7 linked regions of the Homo sapiens genome follow. The protein of the gene in region 1 interacts with the protein of each later gene in a biochemical or structural test. Each region holds a gene or a part of one and is shown in the gene's direction. Other genes may lie near its edges.

Region 1 (3,500 bases):
GAAAAGTCGGCAACTACCCAGCTCCCCTGCACCAAACTGGGCAGAAGTGGATCCTCTGAAAATTGCACACACCCATGTTTAAATGTACACACAGAACTCTTGCCACAGGCAAGCGGAGATTTGTCATCTGCTGTCCCTGCCTCATCTTCTTCCTGAAATCCACTCCATGCCAGGAATAAACTGCATGCTCTCCACCAGCCCAAACTGACCTGCCTTCCCGCCAGCCATCCCGGGCAGGGTGACCTGGCTTAGTACATCGGGTTCAGAGATCTTTCCAGTTTACTCGTTGAATAAAAAGTGAGGGCTGATCGAGAAAGTAATGGCAGTCAGGGAAGGCGAAGGAGGTAAAGAAGAGATTTTACAAATGAAGTAATTCAACAGAGTGCTGACATTGGTAAACTGGCAAACAGATTTCAGGGTGGTTGGTTGAGAGTAGAGTAGAAAAGGATTAAATAAAGCAAACTTGTGGTGTACTGAATCTTAGGAATTCCATGTATCCAATAAGTATAGTCATTTATGAATTAATAAATTCGGCCTAAGAAGCCTTCTTATCGCTTAAATCAAGACTAAGTAACAATATATCAGTTTTAAAAAGTCATTATATCAGAAAATCATTTAAATGATACACATAGATTTCCAAGATTTTACTTTAACCGAAACTATATAAATGTGAATTTGTTCACCCATCTTTTGACACAGGGCTCAGGTCTTCTCTTGGTGTCTGGATCAGCCAGTTGAAATTTCTTGTCTGTTTTGCCTATGCCACATTAATAATGCACTGTCTGGGTCCTCCGATTTCAGTTTGGATTTTGGGTTTACATTGTGGAGTCATCTGAATGCAGAATCCTTCAGGGATTTTACTTTTTTTTTTTTTTTTCATGGTCTTTACCATCCCATTTGATAGTAAATATTACTCACCTTTATGAAGTCTTTCCAAAACATTCAACTAAATTTTCTTAAAATCATTGAATGATTTGAAGAGCTTATTCCTCAGCACTTTTACTCCATCAGCTTGCACCTTATTTTTTAATCTTTTTTTGAGACGGAGTCTCGCTCTATCGCCCAGGCTTAAGTGCAATGGCGCGATCTTGGCTCACTGCGACCTCCACCTCCTGGGTTCAAGCAATTCCGCCTCAGCCTCCGCCGTAGCCGGGACTACAGGTACACACCATAATGCTCGGCTGATTTTTGTATTTTTGTAGGGATGGGGTATCGCCATGTTGGCCAGGCTGGTCCCGAACTTCTGACCCAAGTGATCCACCCACCTCGGCCTCCCAAAGTGCTGGGATTACAGGTGTGAGCCACCGCGCCCGGCCAGCTTGCACCTTATTTAGGATATGTGATTATTATAGCAAGTCTGGTGTACATACAAGATTTTGAATGGGCACAGATGACCTTTAGTAAGTGCTTGGCTGTGATAAGAGGCAGTCCTGACTGCAGATCAGGCTGTGTGGACCCCAGCCTTGCATGTTTACAGACCTTCATGTCTTATTCTTACAGGGTATCAGAAGAACACCTACTGGGGAAACTTATAAATTAGTAAAAGGTGGGCATTCTCCCCGCCCATCTTCTGTCTGTCTGCCAGGACTAGCACAGCACTTTGAAGTCATTCACATAGAATCCCAACTTAAGAGGGTAAAATCCTCCTCAACAGACTGAAAATAAGTTTAAATTCCCTTTGCTATATTAACTCCCCTGAGGAAAGAGTCTTAGATCAATGTCCAACACTAAAAACAGTTTTAAATCAGCAAGTGAGAATTAAATCTGAAGCAATTGATAATAATGTTTCATTCATTCCTCTCCTTTGGCCCCGTCCACCCTACTGCTAAATCCAGGCATCAAAGAGAAGAGGGACATAATTATCTCTAGTCCCAGCTGCTGGTTTTCCTTCCAGCCTATGGCCCAGTTTTCTGTTTTACTGAGAAGGCTGGTGATGTTATCTTGGGATCTAAGTCTGCAGTTTCACCACAAAAAGTCCAGGGATGCACTTTCATGCTTGTGTCCTCCTCCCTGGGATAGCAAGGATATTAGAAGACCCCTGGCTCTGTAATTGCTTGTCATGTGCTCTACAGACGCCACAGAATGCCAAGAACGAAGTGCTGGGAAGGACAAATTCATGGAACCGTGGGACGGTGCTCCTCCCCCAGCGTAAAGGACAGCTCCTCCTCCTGAATTGGAGCCAGCGTTCTAAATCATGTGTCAACAGAGTTGTCCTGGATCGGATCCAGTTCTGCCATTGATTTGCAGGTCATTTCAGTGGTACCTGTTTCCAGTTGTTCTTAATTGAACAGTGGCACCAAACTATTGTCTTGCCTCATCCCCCTCCCATGGCCTGTCCCCCAAAAAGAGACTTCTTGGGTAATTAATCAGGGCAACATCAGGCAGTCTGGGCGCGGTGGCTCACGCCTGTAATCCCAGCACTTTGGGAGGCCGAGGCGGGCAGATCATGAGGTTAGGAGATTGAGACCATCCTGGCTTTGTGAAACCCCGTCTCTACTAAAAATACAAAAAATTAGCCGGGCGTGGTGGCGGGCGCCTGTAGTCCCAGCTACTCGAGAGGCTGAGGCAGGGGAATGGCGTGAACCCGGGAGGTGGAGGTTGCAGTGAGCCGAGATCGCACCACTGCACTCTAGCCTGGGCGACAGAGCTAGACTTCTTCTCAAAAAAAAAAAAAAAAAGGAATCTCTTTGGTTTTATATATATTTTTTTTATATATATAATATATATTAAAATATAATATATATATTTATATAATATAATATATAAATATATTATATATTATATATTTTATATATTATATATTATATATATTATATATTATATATTTATATATTTATATATTATATATATTTATATATTATATATTTATATATATTATATATTTATATATAATATATATTATATATTATATATTATATATTATATATTATATATTTATATATATTATATATTATATATATTATATATTATATATTTATATATTATATATTTATATATATTATATATTATATATTATATATTTATATATTATATATTTATATATTATATATATTTATATATATTATATATTATATATTATATATGTATATATTATATATGTTATATATTATATATATTTATATATATAATATATTGTATATATTATATATCTAATATATTATATATATTATATATATTATATATTATAATATATATTATATATTATATATTATATATATTTTTATATATATAATATGTATAATATATAATATATATAAAAACATATATAATATATATTATATATTATATATATATTATATATATTATATATATTAAATATATTTTATATATATTATATATATATACACATATATATATATAAATGAGGCCAGGCTCGGTGGCTCACACTTGTAATCCCAGCACTGTGGGAGGATCACTTGAAGCCAGGAGTCTGAGACTAGCCTGGGCAACAAAACAAGATCCTGTCTCTACAAAAGGAAACTGTAAAAATTAGCTGGGCA
Region 2 (4,048 bases), on another chromosome or scaffold:
AGTAATATTAAATACTATTAAGTGAATCTACCTTGGTTTTCTTTTAACCACCATTTTACTATTACTGGCTCTTCGTAATTTTGCGAGTACATATAATTTTGTGCCAGCATATATTAGGCATGAATTTGGGGTGGTGCAACCAGGGTTTATCTCCTTGGGCTGGATTCCTAGAGCCGGAATTTCAGGCTTAGAGGGATAAACCTGCAGTCTCTGTTCAGACTTTGTTTTTATGGAGACTGTGTTTCCTTCAACAGGAGATCCTTTCCCGCCTCTAATATTACAGGTTCATTTCTTCATCAACACAGACCTGATGTCTAGTCTGGATGCGATGCTTTACTCTAGCTCCAGTCCTCATATTGGAAACAGAAGCTTATTTTACATCTCAGCCCCTTTAGCAAGCAGCCCTCTTAAAAGATTCTTTATACGGAACCCTGTGCACAGCATGATTGCAACTTTGTAGACATACTAGTGTGTAAGAACACTCTTCACAATAGACACAAAAGAAGAGCAGTTGTGGGTAGGATTGTAGGCTACTTCCCCTTTTGTTCTTATACTTTTCTGTAATGCTCTTTCCTTTTCATTGTGTTTTTAAACGGGAGGGCTTTTCCAAGTTGACTCGAATAAATGGGTGAAACAGAACAAGCCTCCTGAGAACACCTTTGTGAGCAGAGCACTGATTATCTATTGATGCATCTCATGAAAAAAATGTACCTTGTTTAAATTAAAGCAGTTGAAAGGGGAGAGAAGTCAGTCCTTGCATGAAGTGTGCCCTGCAGGTGCTTGAATGCCTCTCTCCCCCCACCGAGACCTGGCTGCTCTGAGGTGTGGGCACAGGGGGGTGTTTCCTCTGCAGAAGCTGCTCAGGATGCACTGAGGGGCACCTAAGGAGGTCTGTGGGCAGGGGTGGGATGTCCTATGAAAACTTCAAACAGGCAGAGAAAACGAGTTATTCACAGTGAAATTATCTGGAGCTTTTGACAGTTTATTGCCTTTTTGAAAAGGTTATGGGGAGACAGGGTTTCGCTTGCTCTGTCCCAGGATGGAGTGCAGTGGCATGACCTTGACTCACTGCAGCCTTGACCTCCTGGACTCAAGCAATGCTCCTGCCTCAGCCTCCTGAGTAGCTGGGATGTACCACCGTGCCCAGCTACTTTTTTTCTTTTTAAGTAGAGACAGGGTCTGGTCTATGTTACCCAGGCTGGTCTGAAACTCATGGGCTCAAGGGATCCTCCTGCCTCAGCCTCCCAAACGGCTAGGATTGCAGGAGTGAGCCACTGCCCTCAGCCCTTTATTGCAGTTTTGACTTAAAAATAACCTTTTTTTTCTCTTATGAAATGACCATTACAGCTCGTAGGCCATTTACTAGCTTGTTAGTCATTCTGTTATGTCAACCAAAGCTGCCTGTAACCGACACTTTTCATACTGCAGCTAGCACAGTTTGTGAAGTATAACTTCAAGGTTTACAAATTAATGTCCTAGGATCTTAGATCTTACAACAAATGCGTAGACATGAATGGTGTTTGATTTGGGTTGGCCTCAAGTTTGCAAATTTTACGGAAGATCCCAGGTTGAAATGAGAGTGGCTTGCTTCAACCTTTGGAAAAGAAAACACTCTGGGCAAACTGAGCCCACTCCACTTACTTAAAGAAGCTTAGAACTAATGTGAATGAACTATTAATTAACCTCTATTTAGATCCACCAGGCTTACTTGAAATATGCCTTGGTCATATGTACATGTAATGATTATTGCTTAGTGGGGAAAAGCTGGTGTTCTTTGTTGTTGCTGTACAAGTGTTGAGCAGGTGGTTGTCCGCTTCACTGAAAAGAACCTGACTGGACCAACAATGGGGAATGCAGATTTGGAGCTTTCTTGACATTGGCCTGTTTTTTCCCCTGTAGGAGAACTGCGACACATCACCAAGCTGAAGCCCTGGAGCCTCTTTGATGTACTTGTGGAAAAGTATGGCTGGCCCCATGAAGATGCTGCACAGTTTACAGATTTCCTGATCCCGATGTTAGAAATGGTTCCAGAAAAACGAGCCTCAGCTGGCGAATGCCTTCGGCATCCTTGGTTGAATTCTTAGCAAATTCTACCAATATTGCATTCTGAGCTAGCAAATGTTCCCAGTACATTGGACCTAAACGGTGACTCTCATTCTTTAACAGGATTACAAGTGAGCTGGCTTCATCCTCAGACCTTTATTTTGCTTTGAGGTACTGTTGTTTGACATTTTGCTTTTTGTGCACTGTGATCCTGGGGAAGGGTAGTCTTTTGTCTTCAGCTAAGTAGTTTACTGACCATTTTCTTCTGGAAACAATAACATGTCTCTAAGCATTGTTTCTTGTGTTGTGTGACATTCAAATGTCATTTTTTTGAATGAAAAATACTTTCCCCTTTGTGTTTTGGCAGGTTTTGTAACTATTTATGAAGAAATATTTTAGCTGAGTACTATATAATTTACAATCTTAAGAAATTATCAAGTTGGAACCAAGAAATAGCAAGGAAATGTACAATTTTATCTTCTGGCAAAGGGACATCATTCCTGTATTATAGTGTATGTAAATGCACCCTGTAAATGTTACTTTCCATTAAATATGGGAGGGGGACTCAAATTTCAGAAAAGCTACCAAGTCTTGAGTGCTTTGTAGCCTATGTTGCATGTAGCGGACTTTAACTGCTCCAAGGAGTTGTGCAAACTTTTCATTCCATAACAGTCTTTTCACATTGGATTTTAAACAAAGTGGCTCTGGGTTATAAGATGTCATTCTCTATATGGCACTTTAAAGGAAGAAAAGATATGTTTCTCATTCTAAAATATGCATTATAATTTAGCAGTCCCATTTGTGATTTTGCATATTTTTAAAAGTACTTTTAAAGAAGAGCAATTTCCCTTTAAAAATGTGATGGCTCAGTACCATGTCATGTTGCCTCCTCTGGGCGCTGTAAGTTAAGCTCTACATAGATTAAATTGGAGAAACGTGTTAATTGTGTGGAATGAAAAAATACATATATTTTTGGAAAAGCATGATCATGCTTGTCTAGAACACAAGGTATGGTATATACAATTTGCAGTGCAGTGGGCAGAATACTTCTCACAGCTCAAAGATAACAGTGATCACATTCATTCCATAGGTAGCTTTACGTGTGGCTACAACAAATTTTACTAGCTTTTTCATTGTCTTTCCATGAAACGAAGTTGAGAAAATGATTTTCCCTTTGCAGGTTGCACACAGTTTTGTTTATGCATTTCCTTAAAATTAATTGTAGACTCCAGGATACAAACCATAGTAGGCAATACAATTTTAGAATGTAATATATAGAGGTATATTTAGCCTCTTTTAGAAGTCAGTGGATTGAATGTCTTTTTATTTTAAATTTTACATTCATTAAGGTGCCTCGTTTTTGACTTTGTCCATTAACATTTATCCATATGCCTTTGCAATAACTAGATTGTGAAAAGCTAACAAGTGTTGTAACAATAATCCATTGTTTGAGGTGCTTGCAGTTGTCTTAAAAATTAAAGTGTTTTGGTTTTTTTTTTTCCAGACATTGCCTTGGTCATTGCCCTATAAATGATAGAATCAATGAACATTTGCTATCAGAGTAGTGTCACTAAAACTAAATACCAGCATTCCTGTTGCAGCAGATGTAGTTGTAGAACATGCATTGAGGCGTATTATAAGGAAATCATTTATTGTTTTTTAAGGGCAGAAGGGATTTAGGAGAAAAGCTACAGTATAGATTGATTCTCTAGAATATCAATGATCCCTTTTCATCCATGGTTCATCAAAAACATACTAACTGCATTTGTTTGATCATTGCAAATTTAAAACAAAACAGCATTTGCTGTTAGGAAACAAGACACATAATCCTCTTAGGAATTACCATTATATCACATTACCACTGTGAGGTAGAATGGATCATTCATTAATTTCTTTATGAAATTTGCATGCTAAGTTTTTCTAATGAGGCTGTAGGTTTCCATGTAAATTCTGTGATAGATAGTGGCTGTAGACTGGTGATGCTATCCGTGATTTCTATGAGAAA
Region 3 (3,086 bases), on another chromosome or scaffold:
TCAGTGTCCATAAATGAAGTTTTATTGGAACATAACCACATTCATTTGCAAGTTGTCCACGGCCACTTTGGTGCTACTGTGGCAGAATTGAGTAGTTGCTGCAGAGACCGTATGATGAGAATATGTGGCATTCTCATCATTTTGCCCTGCCGCTCTGTGCAATGTAAATTGCAGTGACACAGTTATAACTCAGCAGCATTTTGAATGCCACTTGTATTCCCATGCTACAACATTTTATTTTTTATTACCAATATATACAAGAAAAGTGGATTTCAAATATCATTGTGCTTTTAAGGTACAATGGAGTATGAATTGTTACTGAATTAGGCAGCAAAGTGCAATGACATGGTAGCTGTCCTAAGGAACACAATACAACCAGGTGCAGTGGCTCATGCCTGTAATCCCAACGATTTGGGTGGCTGAGGTGGGAGAATCACTTGAACCCAGGATTTGGAGACCAGCTTGGGTGGTATAGTGAGACCCCCCATCTCCACAAAAAGTAAAAAAAAACCAAAATACATGTTGTTACTTCCCATCTTAGCACTCATCAAGATATTTCTAATTCACAAGAAAGCAATGGTCAGAAAAATTAGAAAATTTAAAATTGAATATCTCATCACAGAATTTATTCACAAAAATAAAAAATGAAAATGAAGCTACAACCAAAGTAAGTTTCAGATGGCTCATTTGTTAGCCAAGCAAGGAAAGTCACTTATGGTGAATTAATTAAATCATGCTTGATTACTGCAGCTGAAGAAACATGCTCAGAGAAAGTAAACTTGTTTATTGGCCTTTCCACGACAACAGTTGCTCAAAGAGTTGACATTAGGAATGACATCAGTAGTCGACTAAAAAGGCAAATGGTTTTGAGTGGTTTCCCCTGACTCTCATGACAGGGGTCACCATATGTTATGCACACTGCTCCGCTATTGCTCTTTATTTGAGGAGCCAGTACCAAGTTGGAAGTAACTGAAGAATTGGCCTCTATCAATAGTCTTATGTGGAACAACTACTGGCAAAAGTATTTTCAAAGCTGAGAAAACTGGTCAGGTGTGGCGGCTCATGCCTATAGTCCCAACACTTTGGGAGGCCAAGGTGGGCAGATCACCTGAGGTCAGGAGTTTGAGACCTGCCTGGCCAACATGGTGAAACTACATCTCTACTAAAAGTACAAAAATTAGCCGGGCATGATGGCATGCACTGGTAATTCCAGCTACTCAGGAGGCTGAGGCAGGAGAATCGCTTGAACCCAGGAGGTGGAGGTTGCAGTGAGCTGAGATTGCACCACTGTACTCCAGCCTGGATGACAGAGTGAGAACATTGTCTCAAAACAAAAAGTTGAGAAAACGAATTCAGTACACCCTGAAGTGGAATCTGCTAAGATGTGTTATGACTGTTGGTAGTGGAAATATATGTGTGTATTAGTCCATTTTCATACTGCTATAAAGAAAAGCCTGAGACTGGGTAATTTATAAAGAAAAAGAGGTTTAATGGACTCACAGTCCCGCATGGTTGGGGAGGCCTCACAATCGTTGTGGAAGGTAAAGGAGAAGCCAAGGCAAGTCTTAGGTGGCGGCAAGCAAGAGAGTGTGTGCAGGGGAACTGCCCTTTATAAAACCATCAGATCTCATGAGACTTACTCACTATTATGAGAACAGCATGGTAAAATCCTGCCTCCATGATTCAGTTACCTCCCACTGGGTCCTACCCATGACACGTGGGGATTATGGGGGCTACAATTCAATGAGATTTGGGTGGGGACACAGCTAACTCATATCAGTGTGGAATAGAAAATGGCTCAGTTGGACAACTTACAAAGCTTGTAATAATATAAGGTGTTAAAGCCTATAGATTATTCATTGTATTATTTAAGTCAACAGATACTTTGTGAGAAATATTTGAATCTATCATGCATTATTGAACCAGTATTGTCAATAGTGAACTTCCTTTAGCTCTTGTGGACTTCACTATCAACAGCTCTCATGAATTTTTGTCAGAAATATTAGCTGAATATCCCGACATGGCCTGTAATACAGCAGTTCAATGGTTTAGTAGTGGTAAAGTTTCATTTAAGTTTTGAGCTCAGGACAAAGATTGAAATTTTTCTGAATGAGAACTGCCCCGAACCACCGTTACTAAACACTGAATAGTTTTGGAAATTCACTTTTGCTGCAGACTTGATAGTGTTTCTTAAGGAATTCAGCCTAAACCACAAGATAAAAACAGTGTTTATGTGAAACTCCTACTGTGTTAAGTGATTTCAAGAAGAACTATTGTTTGAATCACAACTAATGTTACTGCTTTAAGCTCTTCCCATGTTGTTAAAAGTTAAAAAAAGAAGAGCTCCATTCCCACACACATTTGCCACAGATACATTATCTGAGCCCAAACTACAGTTTGAGCAGTGTGTTAGGGACCTCAATGCAAACCCAAAAGAAATTTTTATATTTCAGAATCCATTGATCTGCATTTGAGAAGTGATTAATGTGTTGAAAGGCAACTATCTAAAGAAAAATTTAATAGAGTCTAATAGAATCTTATAAAAATGTATAAATGTGTTTTATGTAATAAATATGCTAAGCTAAACATCTTATGCTCATGAGCTGGGTGCAGTGGCTCACACTTGTAATCCCAGCACTTTGGGGGTCTGAAATGGGAGGATCACTTCAGCCTAGGAGTTCAAGACCAGCCTGGGCAACATGGTGAAACCCTGTCTCTACAAAAAAAAAAAAAGTACAAAAATTAGCCTCGCTTGGTGGCACATGCCTGTGGTCCCAGCTACTTGGGAGATGGAGGTGGGAGCATCATCCGAGCCTGGGAGGCAGAGGTTGCAGTGAGCTGAGGTCACACCACTGCTCTCCAGCCTGGGTGACAGAGCAAGACCCTGTCTCAAAAAAAAAAAAAAAATGCTCATGGACATAGTAGTGTTGGGAAGGTACCTATCTGTGTGAAGACATGTTCAAAGATGAACTGTGTCACATCTCATTCCAAATCAGCATTAACAGATAAATATATGCAAATATGCAATTGGTTTTGACGATTCACAACACTAGCTCTGAATCTCAATTAGGGAAATGTTATTCCCC
Region 4 (3,500 bases), on another chromosome or scaffold:
CACCTGTAATCCCAGCTATTCTGGAGGTGAGGCATGAGAATCGCTTGAACCCGGGAGGTGGAGGTTACAGTGAGCCGAGATTGCACCACTGCATTCCAGCCTGGGCGACAAAGCAAGACTCTGTCTCAAAAAATAAAATAGAATAAAAAATGAACTGACATATGGTTCCTCTTTAGTTAAGAATTATGTAGATCACCTTCTTGCCTTCCCACTCCCACCCTAGGAAACGGAGTCAAATGTAATGCTTAATGATTATAACTACATTAGCCAGCAAGGTTAAACATAAGTACTTCCTCCTTTTAATGACACCTCACACTCATTTTATTTATCTTATTTATTTATTTATTTATTTATTTATTTATTTATTTATTTTTGAGATGGAGTCTCACTCTGTTGCCCAGGCTGGAGTACAGTCATGCCATCTTGGCTCACTGCAGCCTCCACCTCCTGGCTTCAAGCCATTCTCCTGCTTCAGCCTACGAGTAGCTGGGACTATAGGCATGTGCCACCATGCCTGGCTAATTTTTGTATTTTTAGTAGAGACAGGGTCTCATTATGTTGGCCAGGCTGGTCTTGAACTCCTGACCTTAGGTGATCCACCTGCCTCAGCCTCCCAAAGTGCTGGGATTACAGGAGTTTGAGCCACAACGCCTGGCCTCCCACCCATTTTAACAACTTTGCTTTATGTACCTTTTATTGCAGGCTACTCAGAGCATTTTGGAAAGCAGTGTAATCAATATATTTTTAACTGCTTAATAGACTAAGCAGTTAGTTTACAGCTAGAGTTGTGCATGAATCAGACTTATGTTCCTAGTCTTCACTGGCCCAGATAATATCTTCTCTCATGCTTGCAGCTTTCAAAATACTTTTGTTTAAAAATGAGCTTTTCTGAAAGTTACCAAATAAGTTGTAAGCTGGATATTTAAAGTTTAACATTCTCTATAAAATCTGTAGAGAAGATTTATTCTAATAGATTTTTGTCAAAAACGGAAACCTTAGAAAAAATTTTTCTCTGAGGCACTAATTTATAAATATTAAATTTTTTTTCTAAAATCTTATCCTTGAAAGCTGAACCATGACATAAATATGAAAATATTCATTCATTTTAATATGACATTTTAGGGAAACTTTAGTTCCACAGTATTTCCAAAAGTAATTTCCAGTTTAGCTCTTAAGACTCTTCAGTGAACTGGCAGCCTTTTAATAAGAATGTACTGTATTAGAAAGTACAGGCTTTAATTTTCTAAGTCCTTTAACATGAGTAAAGGGCACGTGTCTTTCTGACATCTATTTGTGCCGTTTTCCACTTGTCATTTTAAAGAATTGGGACCTTCAGATGTCACAACTAAATGCAAGTTTCTAAGGCTTTTCCTTCTAAATTGCTCATTCTTCCCTCTTTTCCTGTTACACTGCAAGCACTTACTCTCTCCTTTTTGTGTGATGTTCAAACCCAAAGGCATAAAATGCCACGATGTGTTGTCAGTTTCCCTTAGTAAGTGGAGATTCCAAATTGTCTGTTTCTGTGTCTAGCAGATTCTTGTCAACATTGATTGGGATTCCCATTTACAGTTGGCAAGGGTCATCAGTAAGTCTTCCAGGAGACTCTTCATACTCAATTCGTGGGAACTGACTTACTGTATCTAGCCAAAACTAACTTCTTAAGCCAAAAGCAGTTTGGTTTTATGGGTTTAAAAAACTTTAGGTAGGAAACATGAAATACATTTCTCTTACTAAGTTTTCCTTGATTAGTTGTTCATTCTCTGTGCACTTGTTCCTTTTGGGATAGTAGGGTAAATGTAGCATGATGTTGCCAAGAAAACAAATGGACTTTTAATTCAGAACAAGCATAGCACTTCTCAGTTAAATGTATTTGGGAAATCCAGTTTAAAAATTCCAAAGAGCTTTAGATTAACTTTTTTATCATAATTATTCATAGAGATTATTTCTGTTAGATATTTTAATATGCTGAATTATTTTCTCATGCTTTTTTCTTAGAGAGTATAATGCACAGTTGAACTTCTAAATAGTATAGTATAACAATTTTATTTTTATAATTTTACTACCTCATGTACATTTTTATTTACAAAGTTTGTGTTTGGTTCTATTTCATATTTTATAAACAAGTTCTCAGGGACAAACATGCAGGGTTTTTCTATTTATGCAATTTCTGTGCATAGCTCTCACTTTGAAATTAGATATGTAGTTAAAATGCCACACTTTACATTTTCTTTTGTGAACCAGACTTTCAAAAAATAATTTGTGTTTTAAATTATTCCGTTAGCTAAAGTTACAATCACTTTTTTTCTTTTCGTGACGTTTTGCAGTTTTTATATAATGCAGTCATATTATGCTTCTTTGATTTTAATGACCTTTTGCTTTGCTTTTCCTTCTTTTGTGCTGCAAACATATAGTGGATTTATGGTCTGTGGGGTGCATTATGGGAGAAATGGTTTGCCACAAAATCCTCTTTCCAGGAAGGGACTGTATCCTTGTGCTGCTGCAGCAGTTAATTAGTTAGGCGATGAACTTCTTTATGTTCTCTAATGAAAATGAATATGCTACATTTACACAGATGGGTTTTTAAACAGGCATAAAGTTTGTGGCTATTATAGTTCAAAAATTGTTGAGATAAGAAGCTGAAATATTTGTAGGCTGCATCTGGCAGTAGGACATACAGTCTCTGCTGGTAGTCAGAGCACATTCACTGTCACTCATTTTTATTTTATACTGCTTTTTATAATTTTAAAGTATACATGGTGTGTGTGATTTTATTTCTTTCTTTTTTTTTTTATTTTAACCAAAATCTTTATGTTAATGTCATTGCATTTTGTTTTCAGTTGACATTTGGTCAGTTGGGTGCATCATGGGAGAAATGATCAAAGGTGGTGTTTTGTTCCCAGGTACAGATCGTATCCTTATCTTTGGCCTAAAATGTAGTTTCTAAAGGTCAAAATGTATGATAGCACTTCAGTTTGGTCAGGTATAATGTATTTTGTCTCTCCCTAATATATTGTTAAATTACTCTTAAAATACCACCTACTATTTGACATAGACTTTTCCTTCCGTTATTTATTGTTTCATATGTTAATTCTGAACCCTGCTCAATTGTAATTATGCACAATTACTTGCTGGCTTTGAGTTGATTTAACCTAAATCAAAAATCATGGCTTGCATTAAAAATTTATAATAATTATACACTTAAGTCTAGAAATACGTACAACTTAATATGAATTTTGGAGCTGTCTGTTGCTTCTGGCCATCCTTTTGTTTTGTCCCCTACCTCCTTTTTGTTAATGTTCTGTGTGGTTTGTGTCTTTTGATTGTTGTCTCATTACTCACATAACATACTGACCCTTTCATCTGAGAATTTCAGCAGTAGTAGTTTTGTATGGTAACGATAGCTTTGGATTCATACTTTTTGTTCATCCCACTACTTTTAATATTTATATTAACAGTGATTTGTTATGTGTTTACCAGCTAGTAACACTTAGAATTGTTTC
Region 5 (3,437 bases), on another chromosome or scaffold:
AGGAGTTTTCCTAGCTACAGTTTTTACATTTTCATTATTTTTTACTTTATTTATTTACATCATTCCCATCCTTTGTTGTACTTTAATTCTTTATATTAAACTCTCCCCATTCAAATCACCACCTTGGTTTCTGTCTCCTGACTGAACCCTCCCTGATTATAGTCAGATTGATTCAAAGACAGGTTTTGTTCCTTAAGGTATATTATTTCTGATACATTTAGGAATTGCTAACTATAATTTATGTTTGATCTGTGTTATATTGCTGACTTGGCATTTAGTGTTTCTGAAGGAAAGGGAACATTGTATAATAAAGGATTATTGAAAGGCTGTCTTCTGTGGAGTTGTCTACCCTTGACCCAAAGACTGTCTCCAGATCAAAACTAGTAACAGTGCTCATCTGATTAGATGTCTTGGCTGCTTGTTAGTCTTTATCATTTTTTTACATGGCTATATAAATAAACTAAGATTATTTTGTTTTCTTTGTCTTAAACAAATGCTATTGACCTCATTAGCTTTGTTCTAACAGGCAATATTTTTACCATATGATAAATATACTAAAATGGTTGGTTAGTTCTAGATCACTAATCTGTTATTTGACTTATTCACGTTTTTTAAATAATTTAAAAATCATTTTTTATCGACGCATTATTATACATATTTATGGGGTACAGTGTGGTATTTGGATACATGTATGCAATGTGTATTGATTAAATTGGGGTAGTTAGCATATCCATTGCCCCAAGCATTTATTATTTCTTTTTGTTGGGAACATTCAAAATTCTTTGTTTGGGCTATTTGAAAATTTACAGTAAATTATTGGTAACTGTAGTCAGCTTACAGTGCTGTAGAACACTAGAGCTTATTTTTCCTTTTGAGCTGTAATTGTATCCATAAACCAACTTATCTCTGTCTTCCTCTACTAAGCCCTGAATAACCACTATTCCACTCTATGGCCATTAGATCAACTTTTTACGTTTTCAAATATGAGTGAAAACATGTGGTATTTATCCTTCTGTGCCTGGCTTATTTCATGGCTCATCCTTGTTGTCATAAATGACAGAATTTCATTCTTTTTTTATGGCTGAGTAGTATTCTAGTATTCCATTGCGTGCACGTATGTGTGTGTACACTACATTTTCTGTATGTGTGTATGTATACACCACATTATCTGTTGATGGAAACAGGTCGATTCTGTATCTTGACTATTGTGAATAGTGCTTCAATAAACATGGGAGTGCAGATATCTCTTTGACATAATTGATTTTATTTATTTTGGACATATACCCCCAGCAGTGGGATTGCAAAATTATATGGTAGTTCTAGTTTGTAGTTTTTTGAGCATCCTCTAAACAGTTTTTCATAATGGCTCTACTAATTTAAGAGCCCACCAACAGTGCGTAAAAAGTTGCCCTTTCTCTGCATCCTTATCAGCACTTATTTTTTGTCTTTTGATGATAATTACTCTAACTGGGTGTGATAGCTCATTGTGGTTTTGATTTGCATTTCCCTGATGAATAGTGATGTTGAGCACTTTTTCATATACTTGCTGGTCTTTGTATGTCTTTTGAGAAAGTTTTATTCAGATTGTTTGACCATTTTTAAAATTGGATTCTTACTATTTTTTTTATTCTGGATGTTAATTCTTTGTTGTATGAATGATTTGCAAATAATTTCTCCCATTCTGCAGATTGTTGCATTATTCTGTTATTCTGTTCATTCTGTTTCTTTTGCTGTGCAGAAGCTTTTTAGTTCGATATAATCCTGTTTGTCTATTTGTTATTGCTGAGACAGGGTCTTTCTCTGTCACCCATGCTGGAATGCAGTGGCGTGAACAGGGCTCACTGCAACCTCAACCTCCTGGGCTCCAGTGATCCTTCCACGTCAGCCTCCTGAGTAATTGGGCCCATACACAGGCATGCACCACCATGCTAGGCTGATTTTTAAATTTTTTAGAGACGGGGCTGTCAGCATATTTCCCAGACTGTTCTCGAACTCCTGGGCTCATGCAATCCTCCCGCTTTGGCCTCCCAAAGTGTTGGGATTATAGGCATGAGCTGCTGCACCTGGCCTCATTTGTCTATTTTTGATTTTGTTTCTTGAGCTTTTGAGGTCTTATCCATATGATTTTTGTCCAGATCAATATCAATAACAGTGTTTCCTCTGTTTTCTTCCAATAGTTTCATAGTTTAAGGTCTTATTTAATCCATTTTGAGTTGATTTTTGTGTATGGTTAGATATAGGGGTTTAGTTTCATTGTTCTGCATGTGGATTATCCAGTTTTTCCAGCACCATTTATTGAAGAGATTGGCTTTTCCCTAGTGAATGTTCTTGTCATCTTTCTCAAAAATGAGTTGACTGTAAATACATGGATTTATTTCTGGATTCTCTATTTTGTTCTGTTGGTCTCTGCGTCCTTTTTTATACTAATATCATGATGTTTCGGTTACTATAGCTTTGTAATACATTTTTGAAGTCAGGTGATACGATGCCTTCAGCTTTGTTGTTTTTGCTCAAGATTGGTTTAGCTATTGTGGGTCTTTTTTGGTTCTATATGAATTTTAGGATTTCTTTTTATTTCTGTGAAGAATGTCCTTGGTATTTTGATGGAGATTGCACTGAATTTGTAGATTGCATTGGGTGGTAATATGGTCATTTTTATATTAATTCTTCCAGTTCATGAACATGGGATGTCTTTTTTGTATCTTCCTAAATTTTTTTCTTCAATGTTTTATAGTTTTTAGTGTAGAGATTATACATCTCATTTGTTAAATTTATTCCTAGGTTTTTTGTACCTATTGTACATTAGATTGCTTTCTTGATGTTATTTTTCAGCTAGTTATTGGTGTATAGAAACTATTAATTTTTGTATGCTGATTTTGATTTTGTATACTGCAACTTTGTTAATCAGTTCTAAGAGTTTTTGGTGGAGTCTTTTAAGTTTTTCTATATATAAGATCATCTCTGCACACAGGGACAATTTGACTTCTTCCTTGGCAATTTGGATGCCCTTTATTTCTTTCTCATGTTTCTTATTCATGTTATAATGGTACTGTTAGTACCATCTTAGCAAGTAAGCAGTACCTGCACTTTGTTCAGTGTCACCCCAAATCTATTATCAATGGGTTTGGTTTTTCAGTGGGGGGAAGATAAGGCTGTATAACTGTCTTGATCTTTAGTGATTTGAAAAGCAAAAAAATATTTATTATGCTTTTATCTGTTTTGTCTTCTAATGAATAGAACTTAGAAATGAAATATTTATCTTCAATTTTGTGTACCTTTAATTGACTTAAACAATATTATTGGTGGCAGTCATACAACCTTTAAAGGACAGCCCTAATAAAAATATAAATGTTTAAGTGTAGGTAATTTTATGCACCACATTTATTCATTGTAAAAATTTGCTTTTTAATAGGTAGTAACACTCTGGTACAGATCTC
Region 6 (3,500 bases), on another chromosome or scaffold:
ACTTCTCTCTTTTTTAAAATTTCTTTTTTTTTCCCTGAGAAAAAGCCTCAGTTATTTCTTAAAATAACTATAGGCTACTATACTTTCTTCATAGAATTGTAGTATGTGTTTTATAAGATGTGTGCAAAGCATGGGACATAGTAGGCGATCAGTAAATGCTGATTGCCCTTATCTTTTTCAAAGTTTCAAAGTTGTACAGGTTGAACATGTAGACGAGTTTCAAATGGCCAATGATAATGCTATATATTATAGTCTTTGTTGGGGGGCTTAGGAAGGAACATTTCTAAAATTCTGAATGTTGATTTTATACTGTGAGGTTGTTGGGAATCCACTGTCCCTTGGAACCTATGTCTCTATAACCTGAGGCTGGAGAGACTGTGGGCGTGACCTCATTTATCACCATCCTGCCTTTGAAGGCTTGTTTCTTTGATTTGGGATTGTGTGTTCTGGCAACTTGTGTGTGTTTCATCAGTAATTTGTTATAGTGCTTCCTGGTAAGGTAGCCTTTTCCCAAACATGGACTGGCCTGAAGGCTCTCTTCCTGTGAAATATCCCGGTTAAATAATGTCAGGAGTGCCATCCCTTTTTTTATTTTTATTTTTTGAGACAGAGTCTCACTCTGTCACCCAGGCTGGAGTGCAGTAGCATGATCTTGGCTCAGTGCAACCTCCGAGGAGAGCTGTCCCTTTGCAGAGAATGGTGATCTCACACATATAAAAGGGCTGTATGTTCCCAAAGATTATTTCCAAGTTGATTATTTGGAATGTGGGACACATTTTCCCATAAAAGCAATGTGGTTGGGTTACTAGTCTGACCTACAAAGCTTTTTATTTGGCATCTTAGTTGAAGTGCCAATTTACTAATAGCAGTTTTGGGTTCTGGGAACAGAGCTTGCAGGACAGGTGGGAGGAGGAAGAGAGCTTCTGATCTCTTTCTGGGGCCTTGGTTTGAGTTAGGCAGAGATTTGTCTTTCTCTAAACTCAGGTTCTCTATCCTTCTCCTTAGGTCTCCAAGTCCCCTGGCACTTTTCTTTTCTTCAGTTCCTCTCCAGACAGGCTCTATTTCTCCAAATGTTATATGTTCCAGAAACTTCTTAGGTCCCTGTCCCTTTTTCTCCATGTAGCTGATGTCAGCCAGGTTTTAGGAGGAAGGCAGGGGGACAAATTTATACCAGGTTGTGAGTGATTGATGATAGTCCTTTACTCTTCCACTTTAGGGAGAGTTTGCATTTTTTTTTTTTTTGAGATGGAGTTTCACTCTTGTTGCCCAGGCTGGAGTACAGTGGCGTGATCTTGGCTCACTGTAACCTCTGCCTCCTGGGTTCAAGTGATTCTCCTGCCTCAGCCTCCCGAGTAGCTGGGATTACAGGTGCCCACCACCACGCCTGGCTAATTTTTTTGTATTTTTAGTAGATATGGGGCTTCACCATGTTGGCCAGGCTTGGTCTCAAACTCCTGACCTCAGGTGATCCACCAGCCTCCGTCTCCCAAAGTGCTGCGATTACAGGCCTGAGCCACCGCGCCTGGCCAACTGCCTCCTGGGTTCAAGTGATTCTTCTGCCTCAGCTTCGCGAGTAGCTGGGACTACAGGTGTGCGCTACCATGCCCGGCTAATTTTTTTTTTTTGAGACGAGTCTCGCTCTGTCGCCTGGTCTGGAGTGCAGTGGCGCGACCTCGGCTCACTGCAACCTCTGCCTCCTGGGTTCAAGCGATTCTGCCTGCCTCAGCCTCCTGAGTAGCTGGGATTACAGGCACTCGCCACCACGCCTGACTAATTTATTTTTTATTTGAGGCGGAGTCTCGCTCTGTTGCCCAGGCTGGAGTGCAGTGGCGCGATCTCGGCTCACTGCAAGCTCTGCCTCCTGGGTTCACGCCATTCTCTCACCTCAGCCTCCCAAGTAGCTGGGATTACAGGCATGCGTCACCTCGCCCAGCTAATTTTTTTTGTATTTTTAGTAGAGACAGGGTTTCTTTTTTTTTTTTTTTTTTTTGAGACGGAGTCTCGCTCTGTTGACCAGGCTGGAGTGCAGTGGCACGATCTTGGCTCACTGCAAGCTCCGAGTTCCATGTTCTCGCCATTCTCCTGCCTCAGCCTCCCAAGTAGCTGGGACTAAAGCACCCGCCACCATGCCCGGCTAATTTTTTGTATTTTTAGTAGAGACGGGGTTTCACCGTGTTAGCCAGGATGGTCTCGATCTCCTGACCTTGTGATCCGCCCGCCTCGGCCTCCCAAAGTGCTGGGATTACAGGCGTGAGCCACTGTGCCCGGCCACACCCGGCTAATTTTTGTTATTTTTAGTAGAGACAGGGTTTCGCCATGTTGACCAGGCTGGTCTTGAACTCCTGAGCCCAGGTGATCTGCCCACCTCTGCCTACCAAAGTGCTGGGATTACGGACATGAGCCACTTCACCTGGCTAATTTTTAAATTGTTTGTAGAGATGGGGGTCTCCCTGTGTTGCCTGGGCTGGTCTTGAATTCCTGGGCTCAAGCGATCCTGCCGCCTGGGCCTCCCAAAGTGCTGGGATTACAAGTGTTAGCCACTGTGCCTGGTCTAGATTTTCTTCTTTCTACAAGTTATGAAAATTTCCATTATGTGGGCATATAATTAATTACACATCATCTTATCAACTGATATTTGGGTTGTTTCTAATTTTTTTTTGTTTTCAAGACAGGGTCTTGCTCTGTCACCCAGGCTGGAGTGCAGCTCACTTCAGCCTCAGCCTCCTGGGCTCAAGTGATCCTCCCGCCTCAGCCCCCGAATAGCTAGGACTACAGGTGTGCACCACTACACCTGGCTAATTTTTGTATTTTTTGTAGAGATGGGGTTTGGCCATGTGGTCCAGGCTGGTTTCAAACTCCTGGACTCAAGCAATCTGCCTGCCTCGGCCTCCCGAAGTTTTGGGATTATAGGCGGGAGGCACTGTGCCTGGCCTAGATTTTATTCATTTTATAAGCTATGAAAATTTTTATTATGTGGGCCTATCTTTTTTTTCTCTTTTTTAAATTTGAGACGGAGTCTTGCTGTGTTGCCCAGGCTGGAGTGCAGTGGCGTGATCTTGGCTCACTGCAACCTCTGCCTCCTGGGTTCAAGCGGTTCTTCTGCCTCAGCCTCCCGAGTAGCTGGGATTACAGGTGTGCGCCACCATGCCTGGCTAATTTTTTGTATTTTTAGTAGAGGTGGAATTTCGCTATGTTGGCCAGGCTGGTCTTGAACTCCTGGCCTCAAGTGATCCACCCGCCTCGGATTCCCAAAGTGTTGGGATTACAGGTGTGAGCCACCACACCCAGCCTCTTTTTTTTTTTAAGACAGTCTCACTCTGTCACCCAGGCTGGAGTGCAGTGGAACGGTCCAGCTCACTGCAAGCTCTGCCTCCCCAGTTCAAGCGATTCTCCTGCTTCAGCCTCCCAAGTAGCTGGGATTACAGGTGTGTGCCGTCATGTCAGGCTAATTTTTGTATTTTTTAGTAGAGATGGGGTTTCAATATGTTTCCCAGGCCTGG
Region 7 (4,222 bases), on another chromosome or scaffold:
CAGGAGTTTGAGACCAGCCTGGGTAACATGGTGAAACCTTGTCTGTACTAAAACACAAAAAATTAGCCAGACGTGGTGGTGTGCGCCTGTAGTCCCAGCTACTTGGGAGGCTGAGGCAGGAGAATCACTTGAACCCAGGAGACGGAGGCTTCAGTGAGCCGAGCTTGCACCACTGTACTCCAGCCTGGGTGACAGAGTAAGACTCTGTCTCCAAAATAAATAAATAAATAAATAAATAATATAAATAATAAATGTCCAGGAATCAGAGCTCAAACTCAGATCCTTAGTCTTAAACTCCAGTCCCTTTTCTTCCTAACTCCAAGACCTTGGAGTAAGATCTTGTGGCTGTAGGTATGGCTGATGCCCTGAAGAGTTGAAGTTGGCAGGGAAGGTGCCCAGAAAATTTTGGATTGAAGATTTCATGGCAAGTCTCTGGCCAGTGGCCTAGCCCGGGTAAGCCATGCTATGCTCACCTCCCCACAGCCCCCTCTCGCCTTTTTTTTTTTTTTTTTTTTTACCTTGACTGGAAGCACAAGCAGAAACTGGGACATGAGCACCAGGAGACCAGATTTCCATGGTCCCGTTGGGGGCATGGGGTTGGGGAGAGGTTGCAGAGGAGGGCTCTGGAGGGGAGCAACTGTCACAGCTGTGAGAGGTGGGGGTGAGCAGGCAGTCAGGGCTGTTCCCTCCAGAATCCTGGGGTGTCCTCTGCACTTCTGCGCCAAGCTGGAGTGCTAGTGTGATGGACAAGGTGGTAAGAGAGCTGAAAGAGCACGAGCATAACAAGAAAGACAGAGGCAGAAGCAAAAAAAAAAAAAAAAAAAAAACAGAGGGCAACAGAGAGACAGTTACAGAGACTACAGTGATCCACAGAGGGAGAGCCATCCCTGTGAATTAGCCATCATTTCCCTGTAAACCTTAGAACCCAGCTGTTGCCAGGGCAACGGGGCAATACCTGTCTCTCTAGAGATGAAGTTGCCAGGGTAACTGCATCCTGTCATTCGTTCCTGGGGACCATCCGGAATGCGGCACCCACTGGCTGTTACCATGGCAACTGCCTTTTTGCCCCACTTAATCCCATCCCGTCTGCTACAAGGGCCCCACAGTTGGAGGTGGGGGAGGTGGGAAGAGAAAAGATCACTTGTGGACAAAGTTTGCTCTATTCCACCTCCTCCAGGCCCTCCTTGGGTCCATCACCCCAGGGGTGCTGGGTCCATCCCACCCCCAGGCCCACACAGGCTTGCAGTATTGTGTGCGGTATGGTCAGGGCGTCCGAGAGCAGGTTTCGCAGTGGAAGGCAGGCAGGTGTTGGGGAGGCAGTTACCGGGGCAACGGGAACAGGGCGTTTTGGAGGTGGTTGCCATGGGGACCTGGATGCTGACGAAGGCTCGCGAGGCTGTGAGCAGCCACAGTGCCCTGCTCAGAAGCCCCGGGCTCGTCAGTCAAACCGGTTCTCTGTTTGCACTCGGCAGCACGGGCAGGCAAGTGGTCCCTAGGTTCGGGAGCAGAGCAGCAGCGCCTCAGTCCTGGTCCCCCAGTCCCAAGCCTCACCTGCCTGCCCAGCGCCAGGATGGCCACCATCACCTGCACCCGCTTCACGGAAGAGTACCAGCTCTTCGAGGAATTGGGCAAGTGAGTTGTGCCTCAGGAAGTCCTGGAAGGCATGGGGGGCGGGGAGGTCAGGGTCTCTAGTGGGGTGTGTGTGCCTGCAGTGCTTGGGGAGCATTCCTTGTACACAGATGAAGGCAGGCTGCATGGGTTTGGGGGCACCTGCCTGTGTACAGAGTGTCCAGAGTCGGGCGTGGGTATGTTTGTGGGTGCACAGATGTGCCAAGCTAGCCAGGCCAGTGTGTATGTAGGGATGAAGGGTTGACAGTGTATGCCAGTGCACACACATACACACAAAATGCACACAAGTACACACAACCTGGATACACACAGATTCTTAGAGACTTAGGGTTAAAAAGGGATTTTCCTAGTCAGCTGGGTCCAAAGCTGGAATTCCTTCTCTAGTTTTGCTTGAGGTGGCCATCCGCCCTCCACTTAGATACCTCCAGTGACAGAGAATTCACCAGCTCCCGGTAGTTCTTCCTGACTTTAGACACCCACAGTGACTGTACAGAGTGGCCAACTTCTCCCTCCCTACCTCCCCTTTCTCAGCTCCTGCCAGGAGTGAGGGCGTCAGTACAGTAGGGGTTAATATCTGAGCATGACAGGCTTCCCGGGTGTTGGGAGGTGGGGAGAGGAAATCAGGAAAGCTGTAGCGGGGAGCACCGCTGTTTCAGGGGCTAGGGTATGAAGGGTGCAGTGGCTCTGGACAAGCAAAGTTGCCCAGCCCAGAGCTCATTTTCTGCCCTGATGACTGCTGTGTAGAGAAGGATGGGAGGATGAGGAAAGAGGGGAGGCCCTTGTGGGTGGCCCAGTAGGGTGTGGAGTGTCAGGGAGGGATTCCTGGATGTCCCCAGCTGGGTTTCTGGAGGATCCTGGGATGGGTCAAGGGTTGGGTGCATTTTGGAGGCAGAGTTTGCCTTGTGGGCAAAGGAGCACCGATGCCCTGGTTGGTTTCTGCTGAGGCAGCAGGAGCACGGGGGGAGGGGCCCTGGAGGCAGGTGTGTATTGGTGTGAGTTCTGAATGTGTGTGTACTAGTGTGCATTTTGAGGAGTGATGTGTGTGGCTGTAGAAGGGCTTTTGAGGGAAATTGCTTGTGACACTGGGGTACGCTGGTGTGCCCTGCCAGGGTGTGCAAGCATTCATGCATGTGCACCAGGAAGAGGTGCTTCGTGTGTAAGGCCTGAAAATGCAAGTGTGCCTTGCAAGGGTGCATGTGTGTGAGTATTACAAGAGTGCTGTTGGCTGGGTTGAATGAGAACAAGGGTGTAAACATGACTCATTAAATGTGCACATGTATGGCAGGTTAGAGCTGTGTGCACATAGGAAGGCACATGTGTGTGAGGTCTAGGGGTGTGTGAGGATGCTCATATGAGATGCGGACACAATGGTGTTCCTGTGAGGTCTTGATATGCACATCTACGTGAAGACTGGGGTCATGCACACAGGATGATGTACGTGTGTGTGCACACGCATGTGTGTGCATGTGTGAGGCCTGGGCTCACAGGGTTATGTGGGAGTATGGGTGTTATAGGCATGTGTGAGCTCATGCTGGTGTCTGCATATGTGTGGGAGGTGGCCCTGTGACTGTATACAGGAAGGCTGCTTGCACACACACACACACACACACACACACACACACACACACAGAGGCTATCCTACAGGCATGCACCACCTCCCTTGAGCACATATACCCCCATGTGTACGTGTGTTCACTCTTATCTGCAGACTTTCAGCTTTTCTGAATGTGCTTTTTTTGCGGGTAGGGGCAGGAACAAAATGTTTGGGGCTGCTCTGGAGGACTGAGGCTGTCTACAAACTTGTGCAGGGACCCCTCTCCAGGTGTTTTCCAGTGCTCGCCTAGAACCCAAGAATTCCCTGATTAGCCATGAAGCTGCCTTTCAGGGAGTGACCAAGACTGGGTCCTGGCAGGACTGCGTCATGAGTACAGTGAGATGGAGTTGAGATGTGACTCAAGTGCTCAAAGTGAAAATAAAAGTGATGTTTTGCCCCAAGAGGAGATGGATATCATTAAGACTGGGTTTTGTGGGGGCAACTTGGTAGAGAGACCCTTCGTGAGCCTTCACAGAGAATTTCAGGGGCAAGGGAGCCCTGGTGTGGCCATGGCAGGAAAACCGAGGGTAGCAGGCATAGCTAGGCCTTGTTTAATCAATTTCAGACTTCTTCCTTCCAGAACCATCAGACTGCTCTTAACCTTTTTTAGGTCACATATTCCTTCAGGAATCTGATGAAAGTCTAAATCTACGTTCCCCAGAAAAACGCACAAACCTACGAAATGTTGCATGCAATGTCAGGAGCTTGCAGGGACATCGGGAAGACTGTGTATGAGCCTAAGTTTGCAGAAGCTTGTGTTAGAGACAAGGGGATAAAGTGGACTGATTCCGCACCCCTGATGTCTGTGTTAAAAAGTCCAGACCACATCATTGAGGAGCCTGGGGCTCCTGCTCTCCACAGCAGCTTCAGTCTGAGCATCCAGTGGTGCAGGGAGGGGCAGTGCCCTGCGTAGCCACTAGGGACACAGGCGCTGTCCCTCATCACCCATAGCTCTGTGACACCAGGCAGGCTATGCTACCTCTTTACCCCCACCTGTAG

Evidence for each region.
Region 2: of the proteins of MAPT (region 1) and SRPK2, one has a biochemical effect on the other in vitro, tested with the Homo sapiens proteins (2 studies listed by BioGRID, with this or other methods).
Region 3: of the proteins of MAPT (region 1) and DYRK1A, one has a biochemical effect on the other in vitro, tested with the Homo sapiens proteins (2 studies listed by BioGRID).
Region 4: of the proteins of MAPT (region 1) and MAPK8, one has a biochemical effect on the other in vitro, tested with the Homo sapiens proteins (2 studies listed by BioGRID).
Region 5: of the proteins of MAPT (region 1) and CDK1, one has a biochemical effect on the other in vitro, tested with the Homo sapiens proteins (2 studies listed by BioGRID).
Region 6: of the proteins of MAPT (region 1) and PTPA, one has a biochemical effect on the other in vitro, tested with the Homo sapiens proteins (2 studies listed by BioGRID).
Region 7: of the proteins of MAPT (region 1) and CAMK2A, one has a biochemical effect on the other in vitro, tested with the Homo sapiens proteins (2 studies listed by BioGRID).

The regions. Positions count from the first base shown.
Region 1 is NC_000017.11:45,901,054-45,904,553, forward strand, and holds part of MAPT (microtubule-associated protein tau), read left to right. Parts: intron 1-3,500. UniProt on the Homo sapiens protein: Promotes microtubule assembly and stability, and might be involved in the establishment and maintenance of neuronal polarity.
Region 2 is NC_000007.14:105,115,874-105,119,921, reverse strand, and holds the end of SRPK2 (SRSF protein kinase 2), read left to right. Parts: intron 1-1,899; coding exon 1,900-2,084; 3' UTR 2,085-3,548; downstream 3,549-4,048. UniProt on the Homo sapiens protein: Serine/arginine-rich protein-specific kinase which specifically phosphorylates its substrates at serine residues located in regions rich in arginine/serine dipeptides, known as RS domains and is involved in the phosphorylation of SR splicing factors and the regulation of splicing.
Region 3 is NC_000021.9:37,523,773-37,526,858, forward strand, and holds the end of DYRK1A (dual specificity tyrosine-phosphorylation-regulated kinase 1A), read left to right. Parts: 3' UTR 1-2,586; downstream 2,587-3,086. UniProt on the Homo sapiens protein: Dual-specificity kinase which possesses both serine/threonine and tyrosine kinase activities. Exhibits a substrate preference for proline at position P+1 and arginine at position P-3.
Region 4 is NC_000010.11:48,421,677-48,425,176, forward strand, and holds part of MAPK8 (mitogen-activated protein kinase 8), read left to right. Parts: intron 1-2,411; coding exon 2,412-2,483; intron 2,484-2,837; coding exon of another isoform or gene 2,838-2,909; intron 2,910-3,500. UniProt on the Homo sapiens protein: Serine/threonine-protein kinase involved in various processes such as cell proliferation, differentiation, migration, transformation and programmed cell death.
Region 5 is NC_000010.11:60,788,478-60,791,914, forward strand, and holds part of CDK1 (cyclin-dependent kinase 1), read left to right. Parts: intron 1-3,412; coding exon 3,413-3,437. UniProt on the Homo sapiens protein: Plays a key role in the control of the eukaryotic cell cycle by modulating the centrosome cycle as well as mitotic onset; promotes G2-M transition via association with multiple interphase cyclins.
Region 6 is NC_000009.12:129,114,415-129,117,914, forward strand, and holds part of PTPA (serine/threonine-protein phosphatase 2A activator), read left to right. Parts: intron 1-3,500. UniProt on the Homo sapiens protein: PPIases accelerate the folding of proteins. It catalyzes the cis-trans isomerization of proline imidic peptide bonds in oligopeptides. Acts as a regulatory subunit for serine/threonine-protein phosphatase 2A (PP2A).
Region 7 is NC_000005.10:150,286,974-150,291,195, reverse strand, and holds the start of CAMK2A (calcium/calmodulin-dependent protein kinase type II subunit alpha), read left to right. Parts: upstream 1-1,422; 5' UTR 1,423-1,570; coding exon 1,571-1,632; intron 1,633-4,222. UniProt on the Homo sapiens protein: Calcium/calmodulin-dependent protein kinase that functions autonomously after Ca(2+)/calmodulin-binding and autophosphorylation, and is involved in various processes, such as synaptic plasticity, neurotransmitter release and long-term potentiation.